Linked DNA regions of Homo sapiens: region 1 is linked to region 2. A link means that fine-mapping ties the variant in region 2 to the expression of a gene that starts in the linked region. Tissue or cell type: lung. Region 2 holds a variant in brackets; the other region holds the start of a gene. All regions are shown on one strand. Distances are from middle to middle.

Region 1 (5,110 bases), 88 kb after region 2:
CTTTACATAGCTGGTGATACTCACACAAGCAGGCTAAGGGGCCTCCAGTCCTTATGACATAATTAGAGGAGAGCTGGGAGGAATTTCCAGACAACAGCCACCTTCACCAGCCAGCCCTTTTGTCTGATGGTCCACACAAAACTCATTGTATGAGTCAGCAGGATCTAGAAGGTTCACTTCCTCCACAGTGGCCGACAGCTAGAAGACACAGCAGAGCATGTGGGGACCAGGAGAATCCCATAGAGGCAGAGGTGTGAGGAACTAGCAACTGTGGAAAGAATTCCCTTCCCTGAGGGAGGAGATCAGTGGTTAAGAACTATTTAAATAGTCCAAAGTGCACAGTTTAATCTTTAGAGCCCGTAGATTAGATAATAGGAGAAGGGATCCATAAATGCTGGAGCTGATAATCAAAAATCATAGATAGAGGTAGGGCCAGGTTTCCAGGACCATGGGACTGAGGACTCTAGGGAGCCCAGTCCTTGGGGAGCTGTTAGAAAGGCAAGTGCACAGCAGGGATTGGAGCTGGTAAACAGTGAGTGCTGACCCACTAGGGCTTTCATTTCGGGTACTGTCAAGGGTTCAATTGCTAGATTTAATGCTTTGCCTTTCTGCAAATAAAGGCTGTGGGAGCCACACCAGACCAGACTGCAGGGGGATTCTGATAACAGTACTCATGCATGGCATTTAGGTAGCTTTTTAAATGTAAATGTTTTCCGGGAGACATAAAGATGGCATTAGGCATTAACACACACACACCTTAGAGTTAACATCTCAGTTATTTTATGTGTTGATTGTTTATCACAAACATCTACTTGTACATTAATGAGTTAATGAAGTAGGGATACAATGAGGCCTTGCCTTCAAATAGGAATGTAAGACTGCATAGGTACACACACACCCATGTAAACCAATGAAATGAGATATACAATGTGTTATGAGAGGAGCAGATGCAATATTATGAAATTGATTAGGAGGAAGAGAATAACTCAGATTAAGACAAACTGAGAAGGACATCTTGAAGAGTGTTTTTCATTGAGCTTTGGAAAAAATGAAATCTCTGAACATTTCAAGATGAGCAAAAATGGTTTCAGGGAGGAGAAATGCCATGCAGAATGCCCTCTGTAGGGTTTGGGGAAATTAAGAACCATTTGTTTTGGAAATAATATAATGACATAAAGGAAAGCTAGGTTCTAGTAGAGAGTTGAGGAACCTGTGACAAAAAGAAACAGAACAGCTCAGTTTGGATTGTGGGATGAGTCAAGGGGAAACTTCAAAGGGAATCTGGGTGGATTAGGTGATCTGGCAGCATGAAGCCAGGGATGCATCAGGGAGGAAGGGGTGGTTAGAACAGTAGGAGAGAAAGTGCAGAAAAGGGAAAGGAAACTTTTTCTTTGTCACCATTCTGCCATCTACTTACATTAGATGAATCCTTCTATTATGTTTCTGAACCCAGACCCAGCCAGGACTTGTCTCTATTCATTTTCTGGGCTGTGTCTAACAGGAGATAATAGGCTAGAGAGAGATGCTGTATGAACAAATAGAGAAACACATTTGTTTTAAACATTCTCTGTTGCTGATGTTGGAAAAAAATGTGAAACAATTATTGCACATTTCATTTCACTAAGTTTTACCTTTTTTCCCCTTTCCCCTAATTTTCTCTTTCTTGAATTTTGAACAAAATACACAGAAGGAAAACACAAAACACAGAAATGGAAAGTAAAATGGAAGAAAATATCAAGAAAACTTTATTCTTGCTTATATTTTAAAAGGCACATTTTAAAGTGTTATCTTAAAAATCCAGAGCATTTTAGAAGATGAAATGCCAAAAGGTCTCCATTATGTCTATATGTCTATGTCTTTGAGTGACAATCACAGTGCTGATGTAGAGGGAAAGGGGGAACTAGTTAGACACTGTCACTCACCTGGGAAGGCTTTATTCACCTGTTCCACAGGGCAGTGAGGCACCTTCAGCTCTGAATCACCGAAAGAGAATCTGGTGGGGCAAGTTCCAGCTGCATGAGGATTTGCTTGCATAAATATTTTTTACTTATTGCTAACACTGAGGGTGCCTTCTTACTCCCTGGCAAACATTAAACCACTTTTATTTCCTTTCATGGAAATAAGATTATATTTACAGATGGTTCTTAGATATACTCACCTGATTTTTTTTTAATTGCTTTTCCACCTGCTTCCCCTTTCTTCTTAGGGTGAAACTCTAGCCATACGCCCTCTTCTGGTTTCGGGTGAGGAGCCTGAATTGTGGGTATCGTAGTTCTCTTGCCTTTTGGGGTTTCTAGTTGGGCAGCTTTGGAGCCACAGTGGTAGAACTTCAAGTCCCAGGTGGCTCAGGAAGCAGGGGTGCAGTTGCCTGCCTGCATACGGAGCAAGGCATGTTTGAAGAGTACCCGGGTTTGGTAGAGTGACTTCTATTCACTAAAACCATGTGTCTGAACTGAAGAAGCTTGGGCTCACTTCCACAAATGTAAGTGCTGATTTTTTAAAAATAATATTCCTTTCACTATTGATATGTGCTACACACTAGGAAGTTGTATAATTTCCAGAAAAATGTAACAAACCAGCTGCTTAACAAATCAAGCCCTGCTTAAATAAAGGGAAGGTAACTGGTATTCTGTGGGCTTATGGGACATGTGTTAGAATAAACCTCATGACATAGAATAGAATAATACCTTGAGACATGGTTTAGAATAAAGTAGTTTATTTTAAAAAAAAGGAGGAACCCAGGTCACATTAACCATCAAAGGCAAAAACAAAACACTCTATGAGTTGCTTAAAATATGTAGATGGCTGAAATCCCCTAAAAACTTTAAATATCTCAAAAAGCATACAGGTATGTTAAAAAGACTGTGCTTTGAAGATAGATAAAGTTGCAATCAGCAGCCCCACTGCTTATTAGATTTATGACCATTGACAAGATGTTTCACCTCGCAAAGTCTCAGTTTCCTCATCTGTAAAGTGTGTGTGCATAACCTACCTCATTAGGTTAATAGCATTAAATTATGAATAAAAGATAATCATGTAATTAAGTTAAGGGGGTCATTAAATTAGCACAGTGCATTGTACTGAATAGACAGATGATACATGATGGAGGGTAACTTGGCTTCATCCTAATTAAGTTTCAATTAAGCTTGGAAAACACACCAAAGAAACAAAAAGACAAATACTGGATGATTCAACTTACCTGAGGTATCTGGAGTAGTCAAACTCACATAAATGATACTTAGAATGGTAGTTGCCAGGGGCTTGGGGGAAGGAGAAATGAGAGTTGTTTAATGGATATAGAGTTTCAGTTTACAAGATGAAAACACTTGGAGACTGTACAATAATGTAAATATATTTAATACTATTGAACTTAAAATTTGTAAGTGTAAACACTTACAAATGGTTAGGATGGTAAATTGTATGTTAAGTTTTTTACCACAATTAATAAAGATAGATTTTAAAAAATTTATTTTTAAGATCAAAAAGCATGTAGTGAAAATTCCAATGCCTTCCATTTATTAAAGGTCTTCCTAATTTCCTAAAAATGTCTTAAGTCTATATTCAGTGGGTCTAATTTAGGATTGATATTGACTTATCTATGTTAATGTCTGGTTTTTACATAGCAATTACTGGGTGATAATGATGAATTTCAGGTATATTCTTAAAGTTGTCTTAACCTCAGTGGTGATTCTTTTATGCCCCCCTGAACTTAATTACATGATTATCTTTTATTCATAATAGCGATTTTTAATATGATTTCATGGGTAGTGTACAGAATCTAGAAATTATGAAGTCATAATTATTAGTTACAATTTGCTTAAAAGCTTTAGTTATGACTCATTTTTAAAACTTAAAGCAAAAATATTATTTATTCCAGTTTTCTCAACTTCCTTGTAGCTAATTTACAAATAGAATATTTTTATCTGTTTGTGTTTTAGAGATAATAAAAACTATTAAGGCAAAGTTTGTTAAACACCATCTTATCTTAAAATGTATTGGCTGATTTGGAGGACAAAAGACATTTTGGAATTATACTAATTTTGAACTTGAAGACATGTCTGTTGAATTTTTAGAGAATTCTTTCTTGAAAGACCACACATATGCCTAGGTGTCTATTAAGACTAAACATCCCTTATGGCATTTGGTGATAAGTGAAGGTGATAACAACCAGCATTTCAGATGACTGTGCAGAGTTTTACATGTGATATGCCATATATTAATAAATGTAAACCCTATGTCAGCAAGTCCAGGATAGAATTAGAATGAAACTTGTAATTCTCCAAAGGTGGAGGAAAGCTGCAGAGGCACTGAACACTGTATACTTCTAAAAGGGTGGCTTTTTTTGTTGTTGTCAAGTGCCGTCTATGGTGTAGTGTCTCTAGGAAGTGTCATTCATTCAATTGACAAAGATTTCTAGCAATCCTGCAATATACTCCCCCTGGGCTGGGTTTAGAGGCTAGAAGAAACTCATGCACAGCCCTTGAGGGGATCCTTATCTACTAGCAGAGATATGACCTCATAAATAGTTAAAGAGAGTAAGTGCTAATTCATTAGTCATTCATGCTGTTCATAGAGTCACTCCACAGAAAGTGTGATGCTCAGTATCAGGGGATTAAAAAGACACCTTCAAAAACCTTTCTTTCAACTATAATTACTGGAGACCAAATAAATAAATAAATAAATAAATAAATAAATAAATAAACTTGAGATGTATATGAGTCATTCAGAAGCAGAGTGGAGTGACTTCCTAAAACACAGAAGAGACGCGTACCCAGGCTGCCAGAGGAAGGGGCAGTCACAGTGCCCTGAATTTCAAGAGGACATTGTGGGAGGTGGTGGAACTTTAAGCAGGCCTGGAAAAATGTGCAGAGTTGAGATGGGCAGGAAAAGGTCATGAAAGTATCTCACGTACAGCAGTGTTTTCCAAACTTTCGCACATTAAATGATTTTCGGAAACATATGGACTGATCAATCAATAACAATAACATTAAGATTACAGATTGAGAAAGTTATATTTTTTGACTTAGTTTCAATTCTTCAGAAATAAGTTTTGTTGTTTTTGATATGACTTAAACTTCTCCAAACACTTGTTTAAGCTTCCTTTATAACA
Region 2 (5,217 bases):
GTTGCAAATAATGACACCAAGAATGATTTGTTACATAGCAGGTCAAAGTAAATCAGTAGTTTCTTAACTTTGAACTGGAACTAGAAACCTAGATATATTTTCTGTTCTTCTGTTTTCTCCTTCTCCTCCTTAATAGCCTCTGAGCAAATTATCTACTGAGTGAAGTTTTATATCTTCAAGTTCAGCTCTGGTTAGGTGTTCACTTTGTTTCTCCATGGGAACAAACACGTTACCATGGGAACTGGGTAGCACAAACTATAAACAGTACTGAAAGCTTTTAGAAAGAACCACGCTTATAGCACAATGTTAACTATACAATGCAAGTGCTAGCTGGCCATTCCAATACCTAGCATATTATGGCATCTCAAAAAGAATAACTTGATCCTGTGCCTTATCAAATGATGAAAAAATAAATAAAACAAAAGGAAACTATACTTTTTTCTCATTAGAGAAAATGCAAAAGTTTGTTTTCATTAAAAAAGTTAAAATCCACAAAACATATTAATTGTGGTGATTATTTGCATTGACTTAAAAGATACACTTAAGTTTCTTCATACGATGAGTGCTTTTTGCACACTGACATTATCTTACATACCATATCTGCTTTGACATATGCTGGGTCTTAAGTCAGGGAAAAAGAAGTAAGAAAGAACAAAGGGGTTAGCACTAAGGGTCTAAAAGTCGGGTGAGTCACCAGCATTCCAAATCATCATATCCCAGGGTAGTGGAACTATGTTTCTGGGCCAGGAATGATTTATCAGGGGTTGGAATCTGGTGGGGAGGGTATGACAATAGGAATTGCAGGCAATGTTAGGGCTTTAGTGCTAGGCAAGAGAAAGATAAGGCCCATTCAGTTAGAAGCAAAGCTCCAGCCAGTGTCTAGGGAACGGAGTGTGAAGTTCAAGGCCAAATACTAGTCATGAGGCAGGGCCCCTGTTCAACAAGTGATGGTTTAGCTTAGGGTGTGGAGTGGAGGATGCCTACAATGACAGGCACACAAAAGTGAAGTTTAGGTAACAGCATTGTTGGATATCTGCAGCTTGCTGACACCTCACAGGCGCTCTGCATACTGGGCCCTGGAATACATGGTTTACTCCAGACTCGAGTTAATGATTGTGGCTAGAGCTTTTAATATATTGCCTGGTTTCATTAACATCATTAACATTGATTCTGTGGATAGGTGATGCTGGCAGCAACTGAAAACAGAAAGGAGACCTGATTTTCTAAAGATCAACCCACTATAAGACCTCCACATTTAATGTTTAACGTTGGTACACTTGTAGATAGAAAGAAGCATTTGCAATTCATTGGCAAAGGAAGAATGCCCATGCAGGCCACACATTTGGTTCCATGTTCTGAATAGTATGCTATCATGGCAATTATTGCGTGTTACCTTTAGGTGAGGAAATGTCTGATGTGACATCAGTCTCTTTGATAAAAGCAATGAAATAAACTTCAATAAAAGAGTTAACATTTTTAAAAAAATGTTCTTAGGTGCCATCTCCTTACCTTGTATTTTTCGGAGTCCTTCAGTGGCTGTTTGGCAGAGGCTCAAAGCAATTTCAGGGAAACAATTTGAACTGAACTGTGTGGTTCATGAAGTTTGAGATCAACAGACTGGCAACTCTTCAGCTTTCAGAAATAATGTGGTCATGCTGTGTGTGTCTCATTGCACTTCTGGGTTATGGTTTATTTAGTTTTATGGAACAAAATAGGTTTCCATGTAAAATAACATTTTCACCTATAAATTAGGAGCAAATAAAACAAAATTAATTTTGATGTAAAAATCTAGTCTCCCCTGTAACCCACATGTAAATTCCCCATGTTATAATTAGAGAAATGCTCTTACTAATATAAGACAAAAGATATGAAAATAAAAAGGCAATTGCCATTTTAAAAGGAAGTAGAAATTCAAAAGAGGAAGGTGTGAGGTTTAACAAAACATTAGAATTAAAAATGATACCGACAAACTAAGAAAGAAGGAAAGTAAGCTGATATTTTTATTTTATTTTTACACTATAGAATTGAATGCAATGTGTAATGTCCCTCTTATGATTTGGAAGTTGAAACAAAACTAAAGCAATGTGTTAGAGTCTCTCCTCATGACCCTGTTCATAGCAGTCAGGTAACTTAGTTCCCCCTTTCTTTTTTTTTGGAGAGGGAGTCTCGCTCTGTCGCCCAGGCTGGAGTGCAGTGGCGCCATCTCGGCTCACTGCAAGCTCCGCCTCCCGGGTTCACGCCATTCTCCTGCCTCAGGCTCCCGAGTAGCTGGGACTACAGGCGCCCGCCACCAAGCCCGGCTAACTTTTTTTTGTATTTTCAGTAGAGACGGGGTTTCACCGTGTTCACCAGGATGGTCTCGATCTCCTGACCTCGTGATCCACCCTCCTCGGCCTCCCAAAGTGCTGGGATTACAGGAGTGATCCCAATACTGGGGCTGACCTCAGGACTCGGAGTACAAAACAGAACACAGCATAGCGGGTGAGAGTGATAGTTCAATGAATAATGAGAATATAGTGCATTAGAAGTAGCTATGAAATGCTGCGAAAGATAAACAATGCTGGACACTAAATAAAATGGTAAGAATTAATATATAGTATTACAATAGGGAAAAGAGTGCAACGTGAACTAAGCTCAACAATGACCTGTACAGAGGTGATTAGGTATTTTAATGGGAGAATGAAGGAGCAGGGAGAAGGTGAGTTGGGATTCCATAGTTTTTCAGGAAAATGAAAAATTACAAAAATCCAGAAACGAGGTTAGTCCACGTGAAACCCATCTAGCTTTGTTTACTGGTGTTTATTGAAGTTCGGCTCCTCCCCTCCCACAGAGACTGGAAAGCGGGATGCTGGTCTCCAGGTGTTGGCTGGGACAACAGGAAATTCTTTATCAGGCTTGGACTTTAAGTGGGGGATAGGCTCATCCTAAGTAAACAATGTTGAGCTGTTAGAAACTGCCTTAGTGTTTGTTCAACCTAGAAAGGTAAGCTTGAGTCCTAGTCAACAAGAGAACTCAGAGGAGCCTGCTAG[C/T]GTTTGGTCAAGGTGATAACCTTTGCTCATACTAAGGAGAAAGGTGCCTGGGTGGGGTCTGAAAACTTTACATCAAGAACCTCTTCAGAGGCCTAATAGGTTTCTCAGTAGACACAATGGAGAATGCCCAGGGCCAAATGATACGTCCTTTAGCAGGAATAGAGTTGTAAATATGGCTTGTGGAGTGGCAGGAAATCAGATCAAAAGGGAATTGGGAGTAAGATCATAGCAGGCTACTGAGTTTGAATTGTATATCATAGTCTAGTGCTTCCCAAAGTGTGGGACTCATTCACAAATAACATTTTGGTTGTATGAGGATGAAGCATGAAATCATATTGTCGCATGATTTAAAAAAATTTTTAATTATCTGTTACCCCCTCTAATTAACTTCCGGAGAAAGGCTTAGGTTGATGCTAATCTGTGTCTTAAATGGTATTTTTTTTTTTTTGAGATGGAGTTTCACTCTTGTCGCCCAGGCTGGAGTGCAGTGGTGCAATCTCAGCTCACTGCAACCTCCGCCCCCCGGGTTCAAGTGATTCTCCTGCCTCAGCCTCCCAAGCAGCTGGGATTACAGGCGCCCGCCACCACGCCTGGCTAAGTTTTTGTATTTTTAGTAGAGATTGGGTTTTGCCACGTTGTGCAGGCTGGTCTCGAGCTCCTGACCTCAGGTGATCCACTCACCTCAGCTTCCCAAAATGCTGGGATTACAGGTGTGAGCCACTGTGCCTGGCCTTAAATGGTATTTTCCAATCAGCCTTTCTAACAAAGAGTAAATGAATTTCTGCCAACATTTAATGATGTAATTTCATTTTCATTAATTTAAAAAAAATAGATTTCTTTTATAGAACTAATAGTCATTTTCCCTTTTAGTAAGTAATATGAAGTTTTCTTTCCAAATATATTTACTTAAGTGAAACACACTGAGTCTGTTTAAAGACAAAGATTACGTGTGGTGGCAGGAGGAAGAGTTAGGATGACTCCCTTCTTTCTGGGTTGCTCCAAGAGGGAAGTGGTGGTGTCATTAACTAAGGCAGGAATTATGGAAAAAAAGCCAGAACAAAAGAGAAGAAAATAAAAACCAAGAATAAGAAATGGCTTGCCTATTATTACTGGATGTGCAACAAAGTTTATTTAAACCAAAGTCCTATAACTTCAAGGACATACCCAACCCACCCTCACATTCTCTCTAATACAGCCAATAAAAGCATGCCATAAAACAACCTCATCATTTCTACAACCTGCCTTCTCACAGCCTGCCATCACCTTCAAAATGCTGGGTGTTTTTTTGTTCTGCTAGGCATTTATCCTAGGTTACATCCTTGGTTCTTATGCAATTTGGTCTTGACTTTAAACGTAGAGCTTTCTTTGGTCTTTATTTTACTGCTTTCACTTCAGGGCACAACTGAAATGCTGTATTCAGCCAAGCTTTTGGACCCTTGGGTCAAAGATCCTGGCACCCATGCTCCTCCAGTAACAGGCAGGCTTGTGTATGTACTTTCTCTCTCTCTCTCTCTGTGTCTCTCTCTCCCCCCATTCCCCCCCTGGAGGATAATCCCCCCTTTGCATGGGGGATTATTAGTGTGTCCTTGAAATATATTGCTTTTTATGTATCATGCATTAAGATATCAGATGTCAGGAATGCAAAGACTTTTTTCTTCTTTGGATATCAGTCAGTCATTCTTTTTGGAGTAATTTAAATTAAATCCCTCTTTTGGAGCAAGACCTTCAACTTTTGATTTTTCTTTTTGAAGCAGATCTCTTTGCCTTTTGAACTTCTTTCTGAGGTTCATATCTGAAGCTATTCTGTCTGTCTTCTGAGATGATGTACCTTATCATATAAAAATGTATGCTGTGGGCTGGGCGCGGTGGCTCACGCCTGTAATCCTAGCACTTCGGGAGGCCAAGGCAGGTGGATCACCTGAGGTCAGGAGTTTGAGACCAGCCTGACCAACATGGTGAAACCCCGTCTCCACTAAAAGTACAAAAAACTAGCCGGGCGTAGTGGCAGGCGCCTGTAATCCCAGCTACACGGGAGGGTGAGGCAGGAGAATCACTTGAACCCGGGGATCCGAGGTTGCAGTGAGCCCAGATCGCGCCACTTCACTCCAGCCTGGGTGAAAGAGCGAAACTCCGTCTTTAAAAACTCCATCTTAAAAAAAAGTATATTGGACATTAGCTCCTTGAAAAT

Evidence for each region. PIP is the estimated chance that this variant, and not a neighbour inherited with it, causes the effect.
Region 1: MACC1 starts here. The variant in region 2 is fine-mapped to the expression of MACC1 in lung (TOPMed, PIP above 0.99).

The regions. Positions count from the first base shown.
Region 1 is chr7:20,214,671-20,219,780 of GRCh38, reverse strand. MACC1 (MET transcriptional regulator MACC1) reads left to right here and starts at 2,397. Exons shown (of 7, transcript NM_182762.4): 1 at 2,397-2,482. GIRGL (glutamine insufficiency regulator of glutaminase lncRNA) reads right to left here and starts at 2,204. Exons shown (of 4, transcript NR_134569.1): 1 at 2,159-2,204; 2 at 1,418-1,525; 3 at 25-198. RefSeq lists an enhancer at 1,373-2,572.
Region 2 is chr7:20,302,316-20,307,532 of GRCh38, reverse strand. It overlaps LOC101927769 (a long non-coding RNA gene), which reads right to left. Exons shown (of 5, transcript NR_110117.1): 4 at 1,510-1,741. Among named protein-coding and RNA genes, the nearest start is that of ITGB8, 26 kb to the left of the region's middle. The variant C/T (reference allele first, on the strand shown) is at 3,030.